Homo sapiens: one gene and its partners. The protein of the gene in region 2 purifies or fractionates together with the protein of the main gene of each other region. This does not show direct contact. Each region holds a gene or a part of one and is shown on either strand. Other genes may lie near its edges. The genes, in order: BCL11A, PHF20L1, KANSL2 and MTA3.

Region 1 (3,001 bases), on a different chromosome or scaffold from region 2:
TTAAAATATGAGTGCCTTGGATCTATTAAAACCACATCGATGGTTCTTTCTACTTGTTATAAACTTGTAGCTTAATTCAGCATTGGGTGAGGTAATAAACCTTAGGAACTAGCATATAATTCTATATTGTATTTCTCACAACAATGGCTACCTAAAAAGATGACCCATTATGTCCTAGTTAATCATCATTTTTCCTTTAGTTTAATTTTATAAACAAAACTGATTATACCAGTATAAAAGCTACTTTGCTCCTGGTGAGAGCTTAAAAGAAATGGGCTGTTTTGCCCAAAGTTTTATTTTTTTTAAACAATGATTAAATTGAATGTGTAATGTGCAAAAGCCCTGGAACGCAATTAAATACACTAGTAAGGAGTTCATTTTATGAAGATATTTGCTTTAATAATGTCTTTTTAAAAATACTGGCACCAAAAGAAATAGATCCAGATCTACTTGGTTGTCAAGTGGACAATCAAATGATAAACTTTAAGACCTTGTATACCATATTGAAAGGAAGAGGCTGACAATAAGGTTTGACAGAGGGGAACAGAAGAAAATAATATGATTTATTAGCACAACGTGGTACTATTTGCCATTTAAAACTAGAACAGGTATATAAGCTAATATTGATACAATGATGATTAACTATGAATTCTTAAGACTTGCATTTAAATGTGACATTCTTAAAAAAAGAAGAGAAAGAATTTTAAGAGTAGCAGTATATATGTCTGTGCTCCCTAAAAGTTGTACTTCATTTCTTTTCCATACACTGTGTGCTATTTGTGTTAACATGGAAGAGGATTCATTGTTTTTATTTTTATTTTTTTAATTTTTTCTTTTTTATTAAGCTAGCATCTGCCCCAGTTGGTGTTCAAATAGCACTTGACTCTGCCTGTGATATCTGTATCTTTTCTCTAATCAGAGATACAGAGGTTGAGTATAAAATAAACCTGCTCAGATAGGACAATTAAGTGCACTGTACAATTTTCCCAGTTTACAGGTCTATACTTAAGGGAAAAGTTGCAAGAATGCTGAAAAAAAATTGAACACAATCTCATTGAGGAGCATTTTTTAAAAACTAAAAAAAAAAAAACTTTGCCAGCCATTTACTTGACTATTGAGCTTACTTACTTGGACGCAACATTGCAAGCGCTGTGAATGGAAACAGAATACACTTAACATAGAAATGAATGATTGCTTTCGCTTCTACAGTGCAAGGATTTTTTTGTACAAAACTTTTTTAAATATAAATGTTAAGAAAAATTTTTTTTAAAAAACACTTCATTATGTTTAGGGGGGAACTGCATTTTAGGGTTCCATTGTCTTGGTGGTGTTACAAGACTTGTTATCCATTTAAAAATGGTAGTGGAAATTCTATGCCTTGGATACACACCGCTCTTCAGGTTGTAAAAAAAAAAAACATACATTGGGGAAAGGTTTAAGATTATATAGTACTTAAATATAGGAAAATGCACACTCATGTTGATTCCTATGCTAAAATACATTTATGGTCTTTTTTCTGTATTTCTAGAATGGTATTTGAATTAAATGTTCATCTAGTGTTAGGCACTATAGTATTTATATTGAAGCTTGTATTTTTAACTGTTGCTTGTTCTCTTAAAAGGTATCAATGTACCTTTTTTGGTAGTGGAAAAAAAAAAGACAGGCTGCCACAGTATATTTTTTTAATTTGGCAGGATAATATAGTGCAAATTATTTGTATGCTTCAAAAAAAAAAAAAAGAGAGAAACAAAAAAGTGTGACATTACAGATGAGAAGCCATATAATGGCGGTTTGGGGGAGCCTGCTAGAATGTCACATGGATGGCTGTCATAGGGGTTGTACATATCCTTTTTTGTTCCTTTTTCCTGCTGCCATACTGTATGCAGTACTGCAAGCTAATAACGTTGGTTTGTTATGTAGTGTGCTTTTTGTCCCTTTCCTTCTATCACCCTACATTCCAGCATCTTACCTTCATATGCAGTAAAAGAAAGAAAGAAAAAAAAAGGAAAAAAAAAAAAAAACCAATGTTTTGCAGTTTTTTTCATTGCCAAAAACTAAATGGTGCTTTATATTTAGATTGGAAAGAATTTCATATGCAAAGCATATTAAAGAGAAAGCCCGCTTTAGTCAATACTTTTTTGTAAATGGCAATGCAGAATATTTTGTTATTGGCCTTTTCTATTCCTGTAATGAAAGCTGTTTGTCGTAACTTGAAATTTTATCTTTTACTATGGGAGTCACTATTTATTATTGCTTATGTGCCCTGTTCAAAACAGAGGCACTTAATTTGATCTTTTATTTTTCTTTGTTTTTATTTTTTTTTTTATTTAGATGACCAAAGGTCATTACAACCTGGCTTTTTATTGTATTTGTTTCTGGTCTTTGTTAAGTTCTATTGGAAAAACCACTGTCTGTGTTTTTTTGGCAGTTGTCTGCATTAACCTGTTCATACACCCATTTTGTCCCTTTATTGAAAAAATAAAAAAAATTAAAGTACACATTGTAAGCTTCTTGTGTCCTCATTTGACACACTCTGTAAATTACTTGCAAGAAAATAACAGGTTTTAAGAGAAGGCCAGTCAGTCTTTTTCAGGATTATTTCTATGGGCATTCTGATGCGTGTATTATACCCTAAAGGAACATAAAGTACTTACTATATTAAAATAGACATATCTCAAACCCTGGACATAGTTTTAAGGCTTTCCAGTTTAGAATAGTTTTCAAGAAATGGAAGGTGTTTTCAGTCTGATGTTAAAAACTTACTCCATCTCTTAGCAGAAATCCATTCAAACATAAGTGAAAAAACTTGCTGGTAATAGCATCTTAAACTTTTATTTCCTTTAAATTTTTTGCTGTTCTTGTTGTCTAAAAGTTCTTTTCTATTCTCCCATCCTTGCTTTATCTTAGAACATAATGTAAAAAAGATTTTTTTAAAAAAAATCAGCTCTTTGGTTTCCATGTAAGAGTCTTTTCTCATAACAAAATAACCCCACTTTTGAAA
Region 2 (7,040 bases):
TGGTATGTCCAACATGCTGTCTATAGAGCATTGAAGGTGCCCTACTTAATACCAAATATGCACTTTTCTTCCCCAGCAAAATTTGACTTGTATCTCAGTGGGAACAGAATTATTTATTTATTTAGTCCCCAGAAAATGATCGTTCATATTCCAGAGAACTGCAGACAGCAGACCTGATAGTTATTCTCCACAAGATATGGAAGTAAAAAGATTTCTTGGGGACAAGCATGTTGTTTATAGTGCTAGCAGTCTGATTCTTTATAAAGGCCTATGGTAGAATAGATTTTCAAAAAATGCATATTATATATTTTGCTCTCAGATAAGTATATCAGAAAGAGATAGAAGTATTGCAGAACCATAGATTGCAAATTCATCCAATGTAGTTATTTTCTCTTGTTTTGAAAAATGGACACATTCACACATATTTTAACATATGTAGGAAATTTTACAGCCAAATGAATAAAAATGATCTTTTATGAAAGAACTGACAAAGTTCTAATTTTTTTTTAAAAGTATCAGTTGGCAGGAAGAAGGTAAAAACTCTCATCTAAGAATGCGACGTATTTTGTTTTTAAATCCAATGTTTTTAACTTACACTTTATCTCTTTGGTTTTTTTTTTGTTGTTGTTGCTTGTTTTGTATTGTTTTTTAGTCTTTTAACTCTATATTGCTGGTGGCTCTGATTTCATGATGCATTGTGCTTATGAAACTCTAGCTTTCAGCACTAAAATGAGTTAAAGATAATGTTTTGTTAATTTGGTCATTGTTTTTCCTGTTCAGATCTTTCTTTAAAGGGAATCTGTCTACTTAGACCTTTACATTCAACTTAAAAGAAAAGATTTTATAAGAAAACATCTAAAATCAAAAGCTTAAATGTATTCCTCTAATCCTTTAAAACATGAAAATGCTGTTTATTTTTCGAATTATTGTCATTGGCAATTATGGTTCCTAAAGGGGTATATTTCTATTTAATACTGAAAATATTTGTCCAGTAAGATAACATTTTATGTTCCGAAAATATTATGAATAATATATTTTAAAAAATGAATTTAGACTGAAAGTTGACAGCATCCCTTTAAAGACAGCCTATTCAACTTTTAGTTAATAATTTGTGGGGTTCTTTTTGGTTTTTCATTTGTAATAGAAATGTTATATGTTGCTTAACAATGTTTCTGGATACTAAAGTTGCTTAACAGTCAAAATAGAATACAAGAACAAAAATGAAGAAGCCAAAATAAAAATATCAATTTTTTATTATTTATTCAGGCGATTTCACCTAAACCTCAAAGTCAGAAAAAAAATGAAGCTGACATTAGCAGTTCTGCCAACACTCAGAAACCTGCACTGTTATCCTCAACTTTGTCTTCAGGGAAGGCTCGCAGCAAGAAATGCAAACATGAATCTGGAGATTCTTCTGGGTGTATAAAACCCCCTAAATCACCACTTTCCCCAGAATTAATACAAGTCGAGGATTTGACGCTTGTATCTCAGCTTTCTTCTTCAGTGATAAATAAAACTAGTGAGCACAGATTTTTAAAAAATAGTTATTTATCCTATAAGATACATTAAAAACAGTTTGATTGTAGTTATATTGTATTTTTATGAAGTTGCTTTTTAAAAACTCAAGTGGATATGATAGGGAAGGCTTGAAACTATTTCAGGGGCAAAAACCATAGACATTTCTTACTGATTTATTGCTTAGAGACTACTGCTGGTTGAGAATCCTTTCCATTTAATAACACAGATTCCACTGTAGTTTGACTCTCCTCAACTCATAATCCAAGCATACTGAGAGGCCTGATTCATTACAAAAAAAAAAAGTTATAAAAAGACCCAGGATAGCTATTTTTACTTAAGACTATTCCTGTAGATTTTTTGTCCCCACTTGTCTATAACTTTCCTCTGCAATACATTTTATTCATTCTTATTATAATATTTATAGTCTAGACTTCAGTTTAATCTTTTTAATGAAAAAAAAATGCCCCCATGATTGTATTTTTAAAGATTTTACTGTTTCAGTACTTCTAATTTTTCAAGAGTTAACGCAGTCTTTTTCGAAAACACCTTTCACATGGGTATATCTATCTATCTCCCTATATATCTGTATATATAAATAATACAAGATTTGTGTTGACCCTGAGTTTCTCATATTAGTTTAGTATCCTAAGTTGGAGACATGAATAACAGTTATTTGAAAAGTCAGTTGGTAAATGATGGTTTTTTTTGCTCTTTATGCAAAAAATGAAATACATGATCAGTTGAGTGAATATGACATGTTTCCTTATTCCATATTGTGTCTTCCAGAATAATCAAAGATGTTGGCATTCAGAAGACTTTTATCAAACTTATTAACCTATTTTCCTTCAGTTGCCATATTTTCTACTGAATCATTTTTTCATTTTGATCAGGTTTTGCTTTTTCTTTTTAATAGGTGGAAAGAATGGGAACATAATTCAATTGTTTTCCTAATAAGCTTCATTTCATTATGGCATTTATCATGAAATAGTGTCAGTAGTAGTCACTGGAATGTCATATGACATTAATAAACATTTTATTTTGGAAATTATATCTTGGTATTATAACCACAATATTATAGCAATTAAATTTTATTCTTTCATATTTTTAAGTTATCAGCATGTCTTTTTCGTTTTGATTGTAAAATTACTCTTAAATACCCAAACATCAATGTCTTTAGACTGTTCTTATTTCCTCTTTCTAAATTAACATGAATATATTGGCATATATAATCTTGCCTATTCTAGTCAAATGTGTTTGTATGCCATGTAGAAAGAAGATATCTAAAAGTGTGAGAGACATTTCCAAATATTTATATTATATTGCTAGAAGATGCCTAAATTACTTACCAAGTTGTTAAAAAACACAAGTACACAATGTCATAATCTTAAATATCCTCATTATTTGCTCACAATAAGTATACAAAGTTGTTTTTGTTCATTTTTTTTTTTTAATGAATCAGGCCCAGACATGTTTATAAAACTCCATTTGGGGGGGATGATGATGGGATAAAATTATTTACATTAGTGTAAAGTAAATCACTAACTCTATAATGTTGTATCATCTTTGTCCCTGCCTTTTTTTCCCTTAGAGTTTCTAGATTTGCAATGTAGCAAAAGGAATACATATATATATATTTTTCCTTATCTTTTGCTGTAAAGAGACTATTTTCCCGAAGGAAAAATGGCAATTTACACAACGATCTGCAATTAGAGAAATTAACTGTAGTCTGTCACTTGGGGGAGCTACTTGAAATTAATGTTCCATTTTATTTTCTTTTAGTTCTAGTAGAGTGTAGATTTTACAATTTTTGATTGACTCATTTTGAATGAGGGCACAATTTTTGCCTTTGATTACCTTTGGAACATGCCATTCCTTGTGGATATCTTATAACAACATCAGAGGGAAGAATATAAATCATTTTTTCCCATTTATCTCCTTAAATATTGTAAGATGCTCCTGGTATGTATCTGCTTCGTGAACATTGAAGATCTTTTTCTAGGTCCTCCACAGCCTGTGAATCCCCCTAGACCTTTCAAGCATAGTGAGCGGAGAAGAAGATCTCAGCGTTTAGCCACCTTACCCATGCCTGATGATTCTGTAGAAAAGGTTTCTTCTCCCTCTCCAGCCACTGATGGGAAAGTATTCTCCATCAGTTCTCAAAATCAGCAAGAATCTTCAGTACCAGAGGGTAATGTATATTGATTTCCTATAGAACCAAACATAAAAGAAGATAAAGAAAAAACTAAGAGATAAAGATTATTAAAATATTAAGATATTTCTGCTCTTATATCTTCTGGAGTTATAAGCACTTCACTTATTCTACAAATATTTATTGAGTGCCTTCTTTGTGCCAGGCACTGTTTAAATTATGTAACACTTTAATTCACAGTGATAGTAACTGAGCCATTTTATCTGTGTTAATATTACATTACACTCTTTATTTTGTGTAGTGCCTGATGTTGCACATTTGCCACTTGAGAAGCTGGGACCCTGTCTCCCTCTTGACTTAAGTCGTGGTTCAGAAGTTACAGCACCGGTAGCCTCAGATTCCTCTTACCGTAATGAATGTCCCAGGGCAGAAAAAGAGGATACACAGATGCTTCCAAATCCTTCTTCCAAAGCAATAGCTGATGGAAGAGGAGCTCCAGCAGCAGCAGGTAAAAGAAAAAAAATAAAGGCTCCTATAAGTAGATAAGTAGCTAGGCTTGCAGTTATTAGGTATAAACATTTTGAGGTTTAACTACATTATTTTGATTCCTATATAATTCCTTTTCATAAATACTTTAACATTTATAGGAGAGTTTCATCTCCGTTTTAAAGGTCTTTTGTGTGATCATTTTACAATCATATTCCCTGGACATACATGCTGCTTAACCTTGTCACTTGATCTATTTCCTTCTCCCTGCTTCTTTTTTATATATCCTTATTTCTACTAAATATAAATTATTAGAGCCAAGTATAGTTACAGGAATTCTTACTTTTGAAGCTGGGAAATACTTAATGGGATCAGTACTTTGGTTTAAGGATTTTGATAGAATTTAATATTTAAGAAACACTGAGCTATATGCCTGTATCTTAAATATAATTCCATATTTTGGGGCAGAATCCTCCAAATTGAATTAAATTTGCTGTAAAGTTATTTGAGGAGTGCAATATGTAAAATCAGCCATCCTTAATAACACATTTTTTGCATGATTTTGTGATATTTATTGTAGTTCGAAAGCATTTGGATGTGTATTTTACCAAGCTGATATTTTAAATCTAATAATATCTATTCATGTTTCCCTTATGTGGGTGCATTGTTTTATTTAGAAGTTTTTAAGAATTATAACCTGATCTAGAATACACATAAAATAAAAAGGCCAATACTAGTTACAAATGCACTTCTGGTAAATTACTGTTGGAACTAGATGTTTGAAGGAAGTCTGAATTTAGTTTGTTGTGAGTTGGAGAAAAACATAAGGCAGTTTGTTGATTCGTTACCAAGGGTGTTGGTGATCATTGTGTTTACAGGCGTCTTCCCTGAAACCATTTTATCCATTTTTTGGATGAAGCATAAAATGAAACTTATTCTTTTCTGGTGATGGCATGTATTGAAATAAAATGATTGAAGTAACATAAGAGACATATACTTATTTTTATTAATTTTTATCTTTATATAAAGGTTGAAGTTACTTTGTACATGATAATTCTTTATCATGTTTAAAAAAATAAAACAATACCCAAATGTGAATATTTGTAGATTTTGAAACATTTCCTGTAGTTTCTCAAATCAGATCTATTGTCTTTTGACTCTTGGTCTTTCCTTAAGATAATTAATTTTTCTTTTCCACTTTTCCACAAGATTTCCAAATTGTCATTGACCCATTGAGATACTTTTTTGATAAAGGTCTTATTCGGTTCTTTAACGATCTGGAATTTGTTACCGTACTGAATATATGAAAAATATGTTAAAGTTATAAGGTTGTATATACATTGGGAAAATTATTTTCAAATGTACATGTGAAAATATTTACATTTTTCTTTAAAAGTATTCTAATATTTGTAACAATATTGAAATATAGGCCAATATAAGTAACTGTGTAATAACTAAGAGTCTTACATTAACAGATTATATATCATAAAATATCAATGTAGTGATTGTGCATGGAAGTCCTTGACTTCGATGATTTTGCTTCTAACCAGATTATTAACTTCCTCTTTTCAGAATTTCTAGCATATTTGTGGCAATGTGGCTGACTACCTTAGAGGAAGGCACACGAATATTCTTTCCCTTTTTAAATATTAGCAGTAACTATTGGAAAAGTAAAATAAGTAAGATCGTTTTCTGGGAAAGTAAAAGGTAGAGAGGAGTTTAGCTATAATTTGAATTTGTGGAAGAGTAAGGATTATCTGGATATGATGAGCTTAATAGTACAGTAGCTGTCAACTTTAATTGATTATAGCAAGGAAATGCATAGTTTTAATTGTTAATTACTGAAGATTTATTAGAGGGTTGAACACAGTATTTGAATAGAGGGAGGTGAAATTCTCATTTGTTTCTGTGACCTCTTAATTTTTAGTTTTTGAGGAAAGTAGTGCAATTTAGGTCATGTTCTGACTGAACACCTTTTGATTACAACCTTGTGTGCCTGTCCCACGTGCATTGAAATTCTCGGTGGTCTCTATGCTTTTCTCCTTAACCTTTTTGTTATTCACCCTCTCTTGACTATTTTGCAGTATTTGTTATGCTTCTGTCTGTTCCCCAAGTCCTTTTACATCTAGAGCCAAAGTGCCAGGTTTTTATGTTTTTATTTCTCTGATACATATGTACATATATGCACATACTCATACACACATGTATGTTTTGTTGGTGTCCATATTATAAAAGTAAATTTTCTTACTGTTGAATTTTAAAACTGATAATTGAAAACATTCTTTACAGTTCGTCAGAGACATTTTCTGAGTTATTTTTGTCAAATTGAAACTCTTGGGGAGTTTAGAATGATGAGGGTGTTAGTTGCTAACTGTGAAATTGTTCAACATGGTTAGGTTTTTACTTTTGGGGGAGCAAGATAAATTCACACTGTTGAGTTTAGCATTTGATGCTGAAGGATTGATGAGATTTGCAGATAGTCCAATTATTATATACAACTTTTCTTAATTGTTTTCCAATAGAGATAATGAACTTGCAATAATCTCTCGTATGTTCTTCTGCTGGGGTGGATGCCCACATGTCTAGCCACTGTTAAGAATGCTATTGCTGCCTACATTACCAAACAAGTAATTGGTATCTTTGTAAAAATTGATGCCTTTGTTTTTATTTTACTATCAGGATGCTTTGTCACAGAGCCAGCCAATTTTAGATAAGGATACAGCCTCAGAAAATCTTAATTCTGTTAGTATCTGGGAGGATAGAGTAAATCAAGTTTTTTGAAAAGGGGTCTTTTGAAAAATACTCTTGGTTCAGGTTCTCACAGGCACCTTGGGCCAACAGTTATCTATTGCCCCTTGTCAACACAATTCTCTTTAGGTGGGAAGCA
Region 3 (7,040 bases), on a different chromosome or scaffold from region 2:
TTCCTGTCAAAAGACTAAGAAGAGGTTCTCCTTCTCCTCTCCCTATTAAAGAAAATAAGTGGCCGGGCGCTGTGGCTCATGCCTGTAATCCCAGCACTTTGGGAGGCCAAGGCAGGCAGATCACAAGGTCAGGAGATCGAGACCATCCTGGCTAACACGGTGAAACCCCATCTCTACTAAAAATACAAAAATTAGCTGGGCACGGTGGCAGGCACCTGCAATCCCAGCTACTTGGGAGGCTGAGGCAGGAGAATCGCTTGTACCCAGGGGAGTGGAGGATGCAGCAAGCTGAGATCACGGTACTGCACTCCAGCCTGGGTGACAGAGTCAGATTCTGTCTCAAAAAAAACAAATAAAGAAAATAAGTTTTAATTTCCAAATATTTGGCATTTCTTGCCAAGCAAATGAAATCCAGCAATCCTATTTAATTAACAAGTGCTTTTACTGCGAAATTTTTCTCAATGCCTATAATAAATAAGCACTTTCACAATTCAATCAACAACTCAAAAAAGTTTGAAGGCCCAATGCCAAATGTAGTCCTTTAACAGAATCAAGAGACATTATGATGGTTCAAAGGCAAATTAATTGAAAAGAAGAAAAAAAGCATCTCATTTTTGGAAATAGCAAACTTCTAATTTGAATGATGTTTAAAGTATGCAAGTTAGAGGCCAGGCACAGTGACTAAGTGTTATCACAAAAGAGTCAAGAGACTGGGCATGGTGGCTCACAACTGTAATCCTAGCACTTTGGGAGGCTGAGGCGGGAGGATCACATGAGCTCAGAAGTTCGAGACCAGCCTGGGAAACATAGTGACACAACCTCTCTACAAAAATTAAATAAAATTAGCTGGACGTGGTAGCACATGCCTGTAGTCCCAGCTACTCTGGTGGCTGAGGTGGGAAGATCGTTTAAGCCCAGCAGATCACGGCAGTAAGCCATCATCATGCCACTGCACTCCAACTTGGGCAACAGAGTAAGACTCTGTCTCAAAAAAATTAAAAAAAGAAAACTTTTTAAAGAGCCAAGTTTCTTTTTTAAGTTTATAAAGGCCAGGTACAGTGGCTGATGACTGTAAGCCCAGCATTTGGGGAGGAAAGGACTGGCAGACTGCTTAAGCCCAGCAGTTTGAGACCAGCCTGGGCAACATATTGAAAATTGACTCTACAAAAAATAAAAAAAAAAAAAATAGGCCAGGTGCAGTGGCTCATGCCTGTAATCCCAACACTTTGGGAGGCCGAGGCAGGCAGATCACTTGAGGTCAGGAATTTGAGACCAACCTGGCCAACATGGTGAAACCCCATCTCTACTAAAAATACAAAAATTAGCCAGGCGTGGTGGCACGTGCCTGTAATCCCAGCTACTCAGGAGGATGACACACAAGAATTGCTTGAACCCAGGAGGTGGAAGTTGCAGTGAGCCGAGATCACACCACTGCACTCCAGCCTGGGCGACACAGCGAGACTCTGCCTCAAAAAATATAATTAATAATAAAATAAAATAAATAATTAGCCAGGCATGGTGGCACACATACATAGTCCCAGCTATTCAGAAGGCTGAGGTAGGAGAATTGCTTGACCCAGGAGTTAAGGCTGCAGTGAGCTATGACTGAGCCACTGCACTCCAGCCTGGATAACAGTGTGAGACCCTGTCTCAAAAAACACAAATAAAAAAATAAAAGCCGGGCACAGTGGCTTACTCCTGTAATCCCAGCATTCTGGGAAGCCAAGGCGGGTGGATCACCTGAGGTCAGGAGCTCGAGACCAGCCTGGCCAACATGGTGAAACCCCATCTCTACTAATAATACAAACATTAGCCAGGTATTGTGGTACGTGCCTATAATCCCAGCTACTCGGAGAATCGCTTGAACTCGGGAGGCGGAGGGTGCAGTGAGGTGGAGGTTGCAGTGAGCCGAGATCACGCCATTGCACTCCAGCCTGGGAGACTAGAGCAAAACTCCATCTCCAAAAAATAAAAAATAAAATAAAATACAGAAGTGAGGGCCCTAACCACACAAAAGGATAATACTAGAAGTTCACAGTGCAAAATCATCCTTTCAACTGGGGTGGAAAACCCACAGTAATTTTTTAAGTTTATAATTAGATTTAACAGCATTAGGATCCTAATAAGCAAGTTAAATCAGAAACCTTGAGACAATTACAAATATTTTATGTATATTTTGGGACCCAAGTATTAAGGCTATAAATAAATATTAGCCCACATCTATGAAAAACGACTCATGTTTCTTTCTAATGAATTGACCATTACATTTCCAAAGTTATGAAATGGCCAACAGACCATAGAAAGACAATTCTTTAGGCTCCTGCTTGAAACCAACAGCTTCAGCAAACTGCTGGCCTTGATTCAGGGCCAAAGGAAAACAAAATCCTTCAATTAAGCAAACTAGCACAGAGATTCCCACTAGTCTTCAAACTAGCAAACCACAGCCTTAACAGGCAGAGTAAAAAGATACGGGTAAGGCAGTGTCTGGTCATTGGAAGAGACTGATTGGAACAACGAACATCATCCACAAAGGCCAAGCACCTCTGACTGGAACGAGTGGTATGGGCCTGAAATGGAAAAAGACAGATAAAATAGACCCACAAAAGAACACACAAACAATTACGATGAAAATAGTTATATAAGAAAAGCACATCCTAAAGGCTAGAAATTCAACATTTAACAAAAATAGATTCACCAATATTATGCAAAAGACAAAAAACTTTAAAACCTAGTGCATAAAGAATGAGTCAACCTCAATCCCAAATACACCTCTCCATATTCTAAAAGTGTGATATAGCCTATTTAACACAAATTTTGTCTTTTACCAACAGAACTCTGAAATTGCAGCCTTAAGTGGAATCTCAACAAATGAAACAAAATTACTCTTACTGAAACAGAGACCAAGGGTCTGAAAAACAAATTTAAGAATGATCACTTAATTCTTCTTCCTATTAACCTTACTTCCTGACATTCAATTGCTCCTATTCTACCTTCCCACCTTTTAAAACAAGATTCCCAAGCAATTTAGGATTAACCTGTGCTTATTTCTGAACTGAAGAATATCTGAACCAAGGACTTAGAAACTTTTCCCAACTACTCAATATGCAGATGAGAATACTGAGGCCCAGAAAATTTAAGCTAACTGTGCAGACACAGAGCTGGTCAGTGGGGACTCACACTAGAATCCATGTCTCCTGACTTCAAGCTAAGTGCTTTCACTATAACCCATGTGCAAAAAGTCAGATTTCAGATCCAAGACTGGACATAGGGAGTTCAAGACCAGCCTGACCAACATGGAGAAACCCCGTCTCTACTAAAAATACAAAATCAGCCAGACATGGTGGCACATGCCTGTAATCCTAGCTACTCAGGAGGCTGAGGGAGGAGAATCACTTGAACCCAGGAGGTGGATGCTGCGGTGAGCCAAGACGGCGCCATTGCACTCCAGCCTGGGCAACAAGATTGAAACTCTGTCTCAAAAAAAGACTGGACATAGTGTTTTGACAATTACTCTAACTTTGTAAATAAAGTGAACATGAACAGGCACGGTGGCTCATGTCTGCAATCCCAACACTTTGGGAGGCCGAGGTGGGTAGATCACGAGGTCAGGCATTGGAGACCAGCCTGGCCAACATAGTGAAACCCCAAAAAATACAAAAACATTAGCTGGGCGCATGGTGGTGGGCACCTGTAATCCCAGCTACTCGGGAGGCTGAGGCAGGAGAATTGCTTGAAACTGGGAGGCAGAGGTTGAGAGATCTCAGTGAGCCGACATCGCACCACTGCACTCCAGCCCGAGTGACAGTGCGAGACTCCGTCTCGAAAAAATAAAAACAATAAATAAAGTGAACGTATATACCTTAAAGGTATACACACAAATTACCTGTTGGGCAGCACCATCTGTGGCCAGCATTCTCCGTTCCTTCAACTGCCTATGCAGTAAGGCTTCCACTCCATAGCGCTGGCGGTATCGTCGCAGACATTTTAATCGCTTTAAGTTCTCTCGTTCTTTGGCCAAAAGTCCCTCTGGGCCAGTCAGGAGACTACTGCCTAGAGTTACAAGAGTCAAGATGTTATTTGCCAAGCAATCCATCAAGGTTACGTCTCCAAGTCAACAAGTAAACAGGAAAATCCTTGGGCATAAGATAGGCAGTTTCAAAAGCAAATGACCCCCAATCCAGGTACCAAGACAGAAATAAATCTAATTATAGTCATGCACTATATAACCACTTTTTAATCAATCATTGACCATACATACTATGGTGGTCCCATAAGATTATAACAAAGCTGGAAAAAAAATTTTTTTTTTTTTTGAGGCACAGTCTCGCTCTGTTGTCCAGGCTGGAGTGCAGTGGCGCAATCTTGGCTCACTGCAAGCTCCGCCCCCCAGGTTCACGCCATTCTCCTGCCTCAGCCTCCTGAGTAGCTGGGACTACAGGTGCCCGCCACCACGCCCGGCTAATTTTTTTTTTGTATTTTTAGTAGAGACAGGGTTTCATTGTGGTCTCGATCTCCTGACCTCATGATCCGCCTGCCTTGGCCTCCCAAAGTGCTGGGATTACAGGCATGAGCCACCGCACCCGGCCAAAGCTGAAAAATTCTTATTGCCTAGTGACATCATAGTTCAACCCACACATTTGTGGTGATGCTGGTGACCAAACCTACTGCACTGCCAGTTATATACAAGTCTAGCACAGGCTGGACACAGTGGCTCACACCTGTAATCCCAGCACTTTTTGGGAGCCCAAGGCGGGCAGATCACCAGATCAGGAGATTGAGAACATCCTGGCCAACATGGTGAAACCCCATCTCTACTAAAAATACAAAAATTAGCTGGGCGTGGTGGCATGCGCCTATAGTCCCAGTTACTCAGGAGGCTGAGGCAGGAGAATCGCTTGAACCCGGGAGGTGGAGGTTGCAGTGAGCCAAGATCACACACTGCACTCCAGCCTGGCGACAGAGTGAGACTATATCACAAAAAAAAAAAAAAAAATCTAGCACCTACAATTATGCACAGTACCTAATACTCGATAATAAACAACTATGTTACTGGTTTATATATTTACTATATTTATCCTTAGAATGTACTCCACTCTATTTATTAAAAAAAAAAAGTTAAATGTAAAACAGCCTCAGGCAGTTCTCTCAGAAAGTATTGCAGAAGACATTGTTATCATGAGATGACAGTTCGCTGCATGAGATTGTCCCCGAAGACCTTCCACTGGGACAAGATGTGGAGGTGAAAGACAGTGACACTAGGCCCATGTAGGCCTAGGCTAATGTACGTGTTTGCATCTTAGTTTTTAACAGAAGTTTAAAAGGATTTTTTTTTAATTAAAACTAGAAAAGCTTATAGGGATATAAAAAAAATTTTTGTACAGCTGTACAGTGTTTGTGTTTTAAGCTAAGTGTTATTACAGAGTCCAGAAGTTTTTCTTAAAAATTTTTTTAAGTTTATAAAGGCCAGGTGCAGTGGCTCATGCCTGTAATCAATCCCAGCACTTTGGGAAGCCACGGTCGGAGGATCACTTGAGCCCAGGAGTTCAAGACTAACCTGGGCAACATAGCGAGACCCTGTCTCTACAAAAATTTAAAAATTAGCTGAGTGTGGTGGTGCATCTGTAGTCCTAGTTACTCAGGAGGCTGAGGCAGGATAGCCTGAGTCCAGGAGTTGAAGGCTGCAGTGAGTGAGGACTACGCTACTGCACTCTGGCCTCAGTGACACAGCAAGATTCTGTCTCTTTAAAAAAAAGCTTATAGGCCAGGCGCAGTGGCTCATGCCTGAAATCCCAGCACTTTGGGAGGCCAAGGTAGGGGGATCACTTGAAGTCAGGAGTTCCGAGAGCAGCCTGGCCAACATGGCAAAACCCCCCCTCTACTAAAAATAAAAAAATTAGCCGGGCATGGTGGAATGTGCCTGTAATCCCAGCTACTTGGGAGGCTGAGGTGGGAGAACTGCTTGAACCTAGGAAGCAGAGGTTGCAGTGAGCTGAGATCATGCCACTGCACTCCAGCCTGGGCAACAGAGTGAGACTCCATGTCCGTCTCAATTAAAAAAAAAAAAAAATGAAAGTAAAAAAGTTACAGTAAGCTAAGGGTTAATTTATTATTGAAGAAACTTTTTTTATAAATTTAGTACAGCTTAAGTGTACAGTACTTATAACGTCTAAAGTAGTAAATAATAATGTGCTAGGCCTTCCCATTGACTCACCACTCACTCACTCGCCCAAAATAACTTCCAGTCCTACAAGCTCCATTCATGCTAAGTGCCCATTTTTAAAATCTTTTATGCCATAATTTAACTGTACCTTTTCTCTGTTTAGATGTGTTTAGGTACACAAATACCACTGTTACAACTGCCCACAGTATTCAGTACAGTAACATGCTTGTACAGGTTTGCAGCCTAGGTATGTTGCAGGCTATACCACCTACGTTAGCGTGAGTCACTCCATGAAGTTTGAATGACAAAAATCACCTAACAAAGTATGTATCCCCATCATTAAGTGACACATGACTGTACTACCAAATTCACATGTTAAACCCACAACAGCTTGTTGGAACTGGCATAAAACTTGCCTAGAGCTTCATGTTCCACTTTGCGATTATGTAAGTATCGGCGCTTCTTCTCCTTGAGCAGATGCTGAAGTCGTTTAAACTGATCAATATACAACGACTGCAAACGAATTAGCTTTTCACGCATAATCAGGGCCACTTCTTCTGCTGTGTAGACACCAGCATGTCTGGAATAAAACAGAATTCAGCAAAGCATAAGAAAACAATAATAATAAAACCCAAGTTTGAAAGAGTAGAGATGTCAGACTAAGTTTGTTATTTAACAAGTGGTGACATAATCACCTTAATGTTTTTGCAAAACATTGTACCATTCAAGTTGTTATTAAATAAAACAAAAGAGAAAATCTCCAAGAAAGAATACTAATCTGTGATTTCCCAAAATGGGGGAAGGAGAAATGTCTTATTTTTCCCAGCTATTTGCATTATGTTGAAAAGAAAGTGAACATGCGGAACACTTTAAACTTTTA
Region 4 (7,040 bases), on a different chromosome or scaffold from region 2:
GTGTTTAGAGTCATATTAGCTTTGCAGAAACTGTGTTCCCATGATGCATACCAAATTCCCCTTTGGAGTTTCTCAGTATACTTTGACAAATTAAAGCTCCAAGTAATTCTGTAGGAAAGGCCTCTGTGTGGATAAGCTGCTGTATATAATCCTCAGACCATGTTCCCTCAGTGCACCAGTTTGGGAAATGCTCTTCTATGATACTTGCTTTTGGCCTCAGGATCCCACTGTATTTATCTATGGTGGCAGTATTTTATTTGCCCAGGGTGTTAAATGGGGTCGGTGAAGTGAACCGTTAGGTAGTTGATAGACTTTGTGTGTTTATTTTAAATCTCAAGCAAGGATACAATATCTTAATGGGGCATTGGTGATATTATCATCTATGTTTCCTTCCAGTTAAGGTAGCCTGGGATGGGAGAGGGAAGGAAACGAATGTTTATTGAAAACCTACTTGGTGCCCCATTTTGGGTTCTTAGTAGCTCTTTGAGAGTACATGTAGCCTACTGCCTTCAGGAAGGATATAGGAATGAGGGACGGCTGTGAGTACGATTACGTCGATTGATCCCAAGGAAGGTGTGAGCCAAGTTGCTGAATTTGTAGAAATGGTACATGGGGATGTGTTTAACCATTTTTTTGCAGCATGGGAGCACAAAGGGAAACAATTTGTGGAAAATTAAGATTTTTTAGGTCAGGCTTTTACATGGATAGCATCATAAATACCTTGAATTGGGAATTCTTGGATTTTGTAGTTCATGTATATTCAAATGAAAATGAAAAGAATCCTGCAGACAAGTGGTAGTGGCTTAACCTGTCTTGATTTTAACTTGCAGGCAGGGTGCTGTGGCTCATGCCTGTAATCCCAGCACTTTGGGAGGCTGAGGCGGGTGAATCACCTGAGGTCAGGAGTTCGAGACCAGCCTGGCCAACATGGTGAAACCCCGTCTCTACTAAAAATACCAAAAATTAGCCAGGCATGGTGGCATGCACCTGTAATCCCAGCTACTCAGGAGGCTGAGGCAGGAGAATAGCTTGAACCCAGGAGGCAGAGGTTGCAGTGAGCTGAGATTGCACCATTGCACTCCAACCTGGGTGACAGAGTGAAACATCGTCTCCCCCCCGCCCCCAAAAAAAAAATTAACTTGCAAACCCCTTTCACACTCACGTATATCCCCTTAAATGATTATTCTGTTATTTTTATGTGTGCATGATGAATAAGCTATTTTTATTTTATAATATTTACTTTAGACTCATGTATTACTAATCTCCATGATAAAATGTTATCTTAATATAAGATTTATCCTTACAGAGAGATAGAACTTGATGTTTTCTATTTATTAAATGATACCTACTTTCCAATTGAATTTGAGTTATTTAAGGAGAAAGGCATTTATTGACAATTATTAAAATGATTTGCATGATTAGTTTACGTAAAATGTATGTTTTAAGTGAAATTTTATATTTAGAATTCAAAATAGATTCATAGCTTAATGTTTAAGATTTTGAAGGGGAACATCACATCTGGGGACTGCTGTGGGGTGGGGGGAGCAGGGAGGGATAGCTTTAGGAGATATACCTAATGCTAAATGACGAGTTAATGGGTGCAGCACCCCAGCATGGCACATGTATACATATGTAACTAACCTGCACATTGTGCACATGTACCCTAAAACTTAAGGTATAATAATAATAAAATAAAAAATTTAAAAAATGACTTATTAGTTCTAAATTATAGGAGGAAAGGCTTTTAGGCTTTCATTTGTATAAAATAGTTATTTGTATAAATGAAAGCCTAAAATAGGCCTAAAATATTTACACAAATAAAAGCCTAAAATAATAATCCTCCAAAAATAATACATGATGGGTGTACAGTGTTATTCCCGATAAACATGAATATAATGGTCTCTGTATTTTCTCTTTTTCACATTGGTTTGTGAAGTGTTAGTTGATATCTTCATGTGCTGTTTGAACATTTGAAGGTAACTTACAGGTCAGAGAAATAATATTTTAAGGCAAACTTACAGAATTACAATTTTTTATGCACCCAATTAACTTATGTCTCAACCTCAATGTTTTCTCTTAAACTTCAGATCTATCACACATGTATTTTAAATGTCACATGTCAGTAATTTAAACTACAAAACAAAAACTAACACAAGCTTACAGTGTTCAGCTAGCTGTTAAATCATCTGAGTTTTAGGCCTCAAGCATGCTGTGATGTCAGCTGCCCATGCTCACTTCATATGGATTTAGAGTCTTGAAAGGGATTCTGTCTGTAAATGGAGATTTTAAAATAAGGATTTTACTTATTGATTAAAATAAAGGAGTGCAAAACAGATACCTGTTTGTTTCTTCTCTCCTCCCCTACTCCCTCCCTCTTCCCCTCCCCAGCCCCCTCCTCCTCCCCGCTTCCCTCTGTAACCCAGGCTGGAATGCAGTGGTGCAATCACAGTGGCCTCAACCTCCCAGGCTCAAGCAGTCCTGCTGCCTCAGTCTCTGTAGTCGCTGGGACTACAGGGGTTCACCACCACACCTGGCTGACAGATACCTGTTTTTATTAGATTCCTGACTTTATCAATGAGACCTCCCTGAGTACCTTAAATAATCCTTGGAGTGGTGTCTGAACCCTGGGTTTGGAAACGTGGATTTAGATTTTTTTTTTTTTTCTTTTGAGATGGAGCCTCACTCTGTCGCCCAGGCTGGAGTGCAGTGGCGTGATCTCAGCTCACTGTAACCTCTGCCTCCCACATTCAAGCAATTCTACTGCCTCAGCCTACCGAGTAGCTAGGACTACAGGTGCGTGCCACCATGCCTGGCTAATTTTTTTTGTGTGTTTTCAGTAGAGACGGGGTTTCACCGTGTTAGCCAGGATGGTCTTGATCTCCTGACCTCATGGTCCGCCTGCCTCAACCTCCCAAAGTGCTGGGATTACAGGCGTGAGCCACCATGTCCGGCCCCAGATTTTTTAAATACTACCATCTTTTTGAGAACCTATTTCCAGAAACATACACAATAGAGTATTTTTAATCAACAAAACAAAAACTCCCTCAGCAGCACAATGCATAATACAGGATGCTTCACTGAATAGCTTTAACAGGGCCACAAGCACTTTATATAATAATGGAAATAAGTTGGTTTAATGAATTCTGAGTATTAAAAAAACAAATATACTATTATGTTTGGCTTGTAAGCTGGGAACAATAACATTGTAAACTAAGCATGACAAGTATTTTTAAAATGTTTGATTATTTTGTGTTGATGTTACAAATTAAATAGCATTTTTCGTTTTTTCTTATTTTTCTTCTGCTTTAGCTACACAGTCTCACCAGTGGTATTCTTGGGGCCCACCTAATATGCAGTGTAGATTATGTGCAATTTGTTGGCTTTATTGGAAAAAATATGGAGGCTTGAAAATGCCCACCCAGTCAGAAGAAGAGAAGTTATCTCCTAGCCCAACTACAGAGGTACAGTAGTCTTTTTAGTGTTGAAAAATGGCATGTTTTTAAATGGGTTGATTATTCCTTGGAAACAGAAGTACAGTATAGGATAATTAAAAAATGAAGAAAGCTACCTTTATAGCTAAACGTAGCACTACAATATTCAGGGTAGGTGTGGAGAGAAGCAGAGAGAAATTAAATTTTATCAGGTATTCAGAATAATGGTCTCAGACAAAAAAACAATGAGTGTGGGAGATGTTAGCATAAGTAGAGAGCTTACAAATTAAATGTTTAATTGCTTTTGAAAACAGTTCGTAACCTTTACATTCTGTTGAAGGCGTGTCTTACTACATAAAGTCATAAATGCAAATTAAGCATTTTTTCTCCCCGTGGCTGTTTTGGAGGGACAAGAAGTATGGACTTAATCTTGAGGTGAACAACAGTTTAAATGTGATTTTGGTAAAATCCTCATAGGCTGAAGATGCCAAACGCCTGTGTTTACCAGTGGGCGACTACCCTTTTTCAGTGCTGACGGGCTTTCAGGACTCCTTAATTTAAAAAAAAGTGTAGTTAACCCCCTTGGCAGTTTCATACCACTTACTGTGAATGTGATTTTGGATTCCTGTATAGCAGTACAGTATTCTCCACAGTTCCCTTCTCTACTCCCCACCTCTTTCCCAAAAGTGCACACTTTAATTCTCTCTTTTAGAGGTAGTGCACCAAGTGACGTTATAGATGCTTCATGAAAGATTTAAAAGTTGCACTTTTCTTTTGAGCATGATGCAAACAGTAACGTGTTTGGGCAAGTTCACTTCCTTGAGTGTTTGTTGTTTTCTGATTTTGCAGGACCCTCGTGTTAGAAGTCACGTGTCCCGCCAGGCCATGCAGGGAATGCCAGTCCGAAACACTGGGAGTCCAAAGTCTGCAGTGAAGACCCGCCAAGCTTTCTTCCTTCATACTACATATTTCACAAAATTTGCTCGTCAGGTCTGCAAAAATACCCTCCGGCTGCGGCAGGCAGCAAGACGGCCGTTTGTTGCTATTAATTATGCTGCCATTAGGGCAGAATGTAAGATGCTTTTAAATTCTTAACCTTATATGTTGTGCTTCTGACCATTTTCTCTTTTCCTCTCTTTCCTTTTTTTTTTGTTTGTTTGTTTGCAATAAACATAAGTTCTTGTGTACAGCCTTTTATTTGGTTTATTTTTTAACATTGTTTTTGTGTGCTGCCATTTGTATCATGCCAACCTGGAAAAAAAAAATCAAAACATTGAAACTTCTGTACTCTTTACCAGAGAGTAGTGCTTAGCAAAAGATTGGTGGGAGGTGATCCTATTCCATGGGGTTTTGTGATGGAATTGCCTGCAGAGCCCTTATTGAAGCACTTTTACCTTTTAGGTAGTGCCACAATGTAACCCCTAAGGATGCTGTTATAATGAGACTCCATAATCGAGACAGTACAGTCCAGTCTTACATGGATTCATTAGGTTTAAATAAAATTTGCCAATTTACACTAATTAGAGACTGTATGTCTTTGTAAACCTCTCGTTTTTCTCATGAACCTTTTACAATTGTCATACAACATTATGGAAATTCACCCTTGATTCATAACAAATACTATATTTATTAGAAGGTCTAGCAAATTACAAGTAAATTTTAAACTCATTTTTGGGTGAGTTTTCTGAAATTACACATTGCATTTTCATAAGCTAGCATCTAAACATATGGTTGAGCAGCCTGTTTGTCCAGTTTGGTTTCCATTTCATGATCATGTATCATATATATCACCACATAACATTTACATGACTTACTACTCTTATTTTCAACACATTTGGTCTTGCTTATCTTTTTTATTTTTATTTTTGTTAGCACAGAGATCATATGTGTCCATGAATTGTGGATCGTTTTGTCATTACCATGTCTCTGACAATATGTGTATAATTAATATGTTAGCTCTGGAGTCACATTCCAGGCTAGCATGTTAGAGCCGTGCAGCTTTTGTTCCTTAAGGGGTGACAAAACTTGCTGTCTGGCCTAACAGATAGGAAATCCTAAAGCCATTCTAAGAAATCTCTTACTATGAAATGTTCCCCTTTGATTTAAAGAGGATATCAATAAAAGGAATGATGACTGAAAAAAACATTTTTTGTTCCTAAAGATAATTTTTAGCAGAATAGTTGAAAGGCTTTAAAACTTAAGTAGCAGCTCTATAAGAAGAAAAATGCTTTGTAAAGGGAGTTGAGGGCTGGGCGCGGTGGCTCATGCTTGTAATCCCAGTACTTTGGGAGGCCGAGGTGGGTGGATCACCTGAGGTCAGGAGTTCGAGACCAGCCTGGTCAACATGGTGAAACTGTCTCTACTAAATATACAAAAATTAGCCAGGCGTGGTGGCAGGCGCCTGTAATCCCAGCTACTCAGGAGGCCAAGGCAGGAGAATTGCTTTAAACCGGGAGGCAGAGGTTGCAGTGAGCTGAGATTGCGCCATTGCGCTCCAGCCTGGGCAATGAGCGAAACTTCATCTCAAAAAAAAAAAAAAAAAAAAAAAAAGAAAGTGGTAGCAATGTCAGAGTCCCACAGAAGGGGGATTACTATATTAGATTCATGTATATTTGAGAGTTTAGGCTTATATTTAGGTTTTGTGCTAGCATTTGAGACCTCATGGACTTACGTTACCACTTTCCCATTTTGGGAATTAGAAATATTTATAGTCTAAATTGTTCAGCTCATTTAAAACACATTTTCATGTAATTTTTTAAATAAAATGGTGAAGACCAGTCACGGTGGCTTACGCCTGTAATCCTAGCACTTTGGGAGGCCGAAGTGGGCAGATCACCTGAGGTCAGGAGTTAGAGACTAGCCTGGCCAACATGGTGAAGCCTCATCTCTACTAAAAATTCAAAAATTAGCCAGGCATGGTGGCACACGCCTGTAATCCCAGCTGCTTGGAAGGCTGAGGCAAGAGAATCACTTGAACCTGGGAGGCAGAGGTTGCAGTGAGCTGAGATCATGCCACCGCACTCCAGCCTGGGCAACACAGACTCCGCATTAAAAAATAAATAAATAAATAAAAATTAAAAAGTAAAACATTTAAGAATGAAAATGAATGAGACTTTTCCATTAAGATTGGTGGGGATCCAGTATCATCTTTGTCCTAGGACTAGAAGAGAAACCATCAGCAACTCAGTTGGCTGCTGAGGAAACTCTGTTTCCCCAGGGCTTGTGTGTTAATTTTCAGTTAATTTGCACATTATCTTTGTTTTGATTATTCTTCAATGAAGTATATTTTTCTTTTATCTCGTTCTAATTTTTTTCTCAATTGACGGGCCATGCTGCTAAAAGGGATCATAATTAAGTTACCTGTATTTTATTTCTATAAGCATATAGATTATAGTAATCATAAAAGAGCAGTCGTCTATCTGGATGAAATTCAGAGAGCATGTATTATTTTGTTTTGTATTTAGCTTCACTGGTCATTGAGTTGTACATAATCAGATTCTTAAATAATTTTACCTTGAGATTTAAAATGACAGTGTTTCAGCAGCCGTCTACTCTTTTTTATTTTTCAGACAAGCAATGAACTTTTCCTAACATCTAATTGATTATGCT

Evidence for each region.
Region 1: the proteins of PHF20L1 (region 2) and BCL11A purify together in Homo sapiens (affinity purification with mass spectrometry; 2 studies listed by BioGRID and IntAct, with this or other methods). This does not show direct contact.
Region 3: the proteins of PHF20L1 (region 2) and KANSL2 purify together in Homo sapiens (affinity purification with mass spectrometry; 2 studies listed by BioGRID and IntAct, with this or other methods). This does not show direct contact.
Region 4: the proteins of PHF20L1 (region 2) and MTA3 purify together in Homo sapiens (affinity purification with mass spectrometry; 2 studies listed by BioGRID and IntAct, with this or other methods). This does not show direct contact.

What each region holds. Positions count from the first base shown.
Region 1 is NC_000002.12:60,456,691-60,459,691, reverse strand, and holds the end of BCL11A (BCL11 transcription factor A), read left to right. Parts: 3' UTR 1-2,498; downstream 2,499-3,001. UniProt on the Homo sapiens protein: Transcription factor. Associated with the BAF SWI/SNF chromatin remodeling complex. Binds to the 5'-TGACCA-3' sequence motif in regulatory regions of target genes, including a distal promoter of the HBG1 hemoglobin subunit gamma-1 gene.
Region 2 is NC_000008.11:132,813,371-132,820,410, forward strand, and holds part of PHF20L1 (PHD finger protein 20-like protein 1), read left to right. Parts: intron 1-1,266; coding exon 1,267-1,519; intron 1,520-3,517; coding exon 3,518-3,706; intron 3,707-3,968; coding exon 3,969-4,175; intron 4,176-7,040.
Region 3 is NC_000012.12:48,665,223-48,672,262, forward strand, and holds part of KANSL2 (KAT8 regulatory NSL complex subunit 2), read right to left. Parts: intron 6,741-7,040; coding exon 6,577-6,740; intron 4,051-6,576; coding exon 3,884-4,050; intron 2,568-3,883; coding exon 2,471-2,567; intron 2,372-2,470; exon of another isoform or gene 2,235-2,371; intron 1-2,234. UniProt on the Homo sapiens protein: Non-catalytic component of the NSL histone acetyltransferase complex, a multiprotein complex that mediates histone H4 acetylation at 'Lys-5'- and 'Lys-8' (H4K5ac and H4K8ac) at transcription start sites and promotes transcription initiation.
Region 4 is NC_000002.12:42,704,594-42,711,633, forward strand, and holds part of MTA3 (metastasis-associated protein MTA3), read left to right. Parts: intron 1-3,309; coding exon 3,310-3,461; intron 3,462-4,280; coding exon 4,281-4,503; coding exon of another isoform or gene 4,504-4,526; exon of another isoform or gene 4,527-4,951; intron 4,952-7,040. UniProt on the Homo sapiens protein: Acts as a component of the histone deacetylase NuRD complex which participates in the remodeling of chromatin.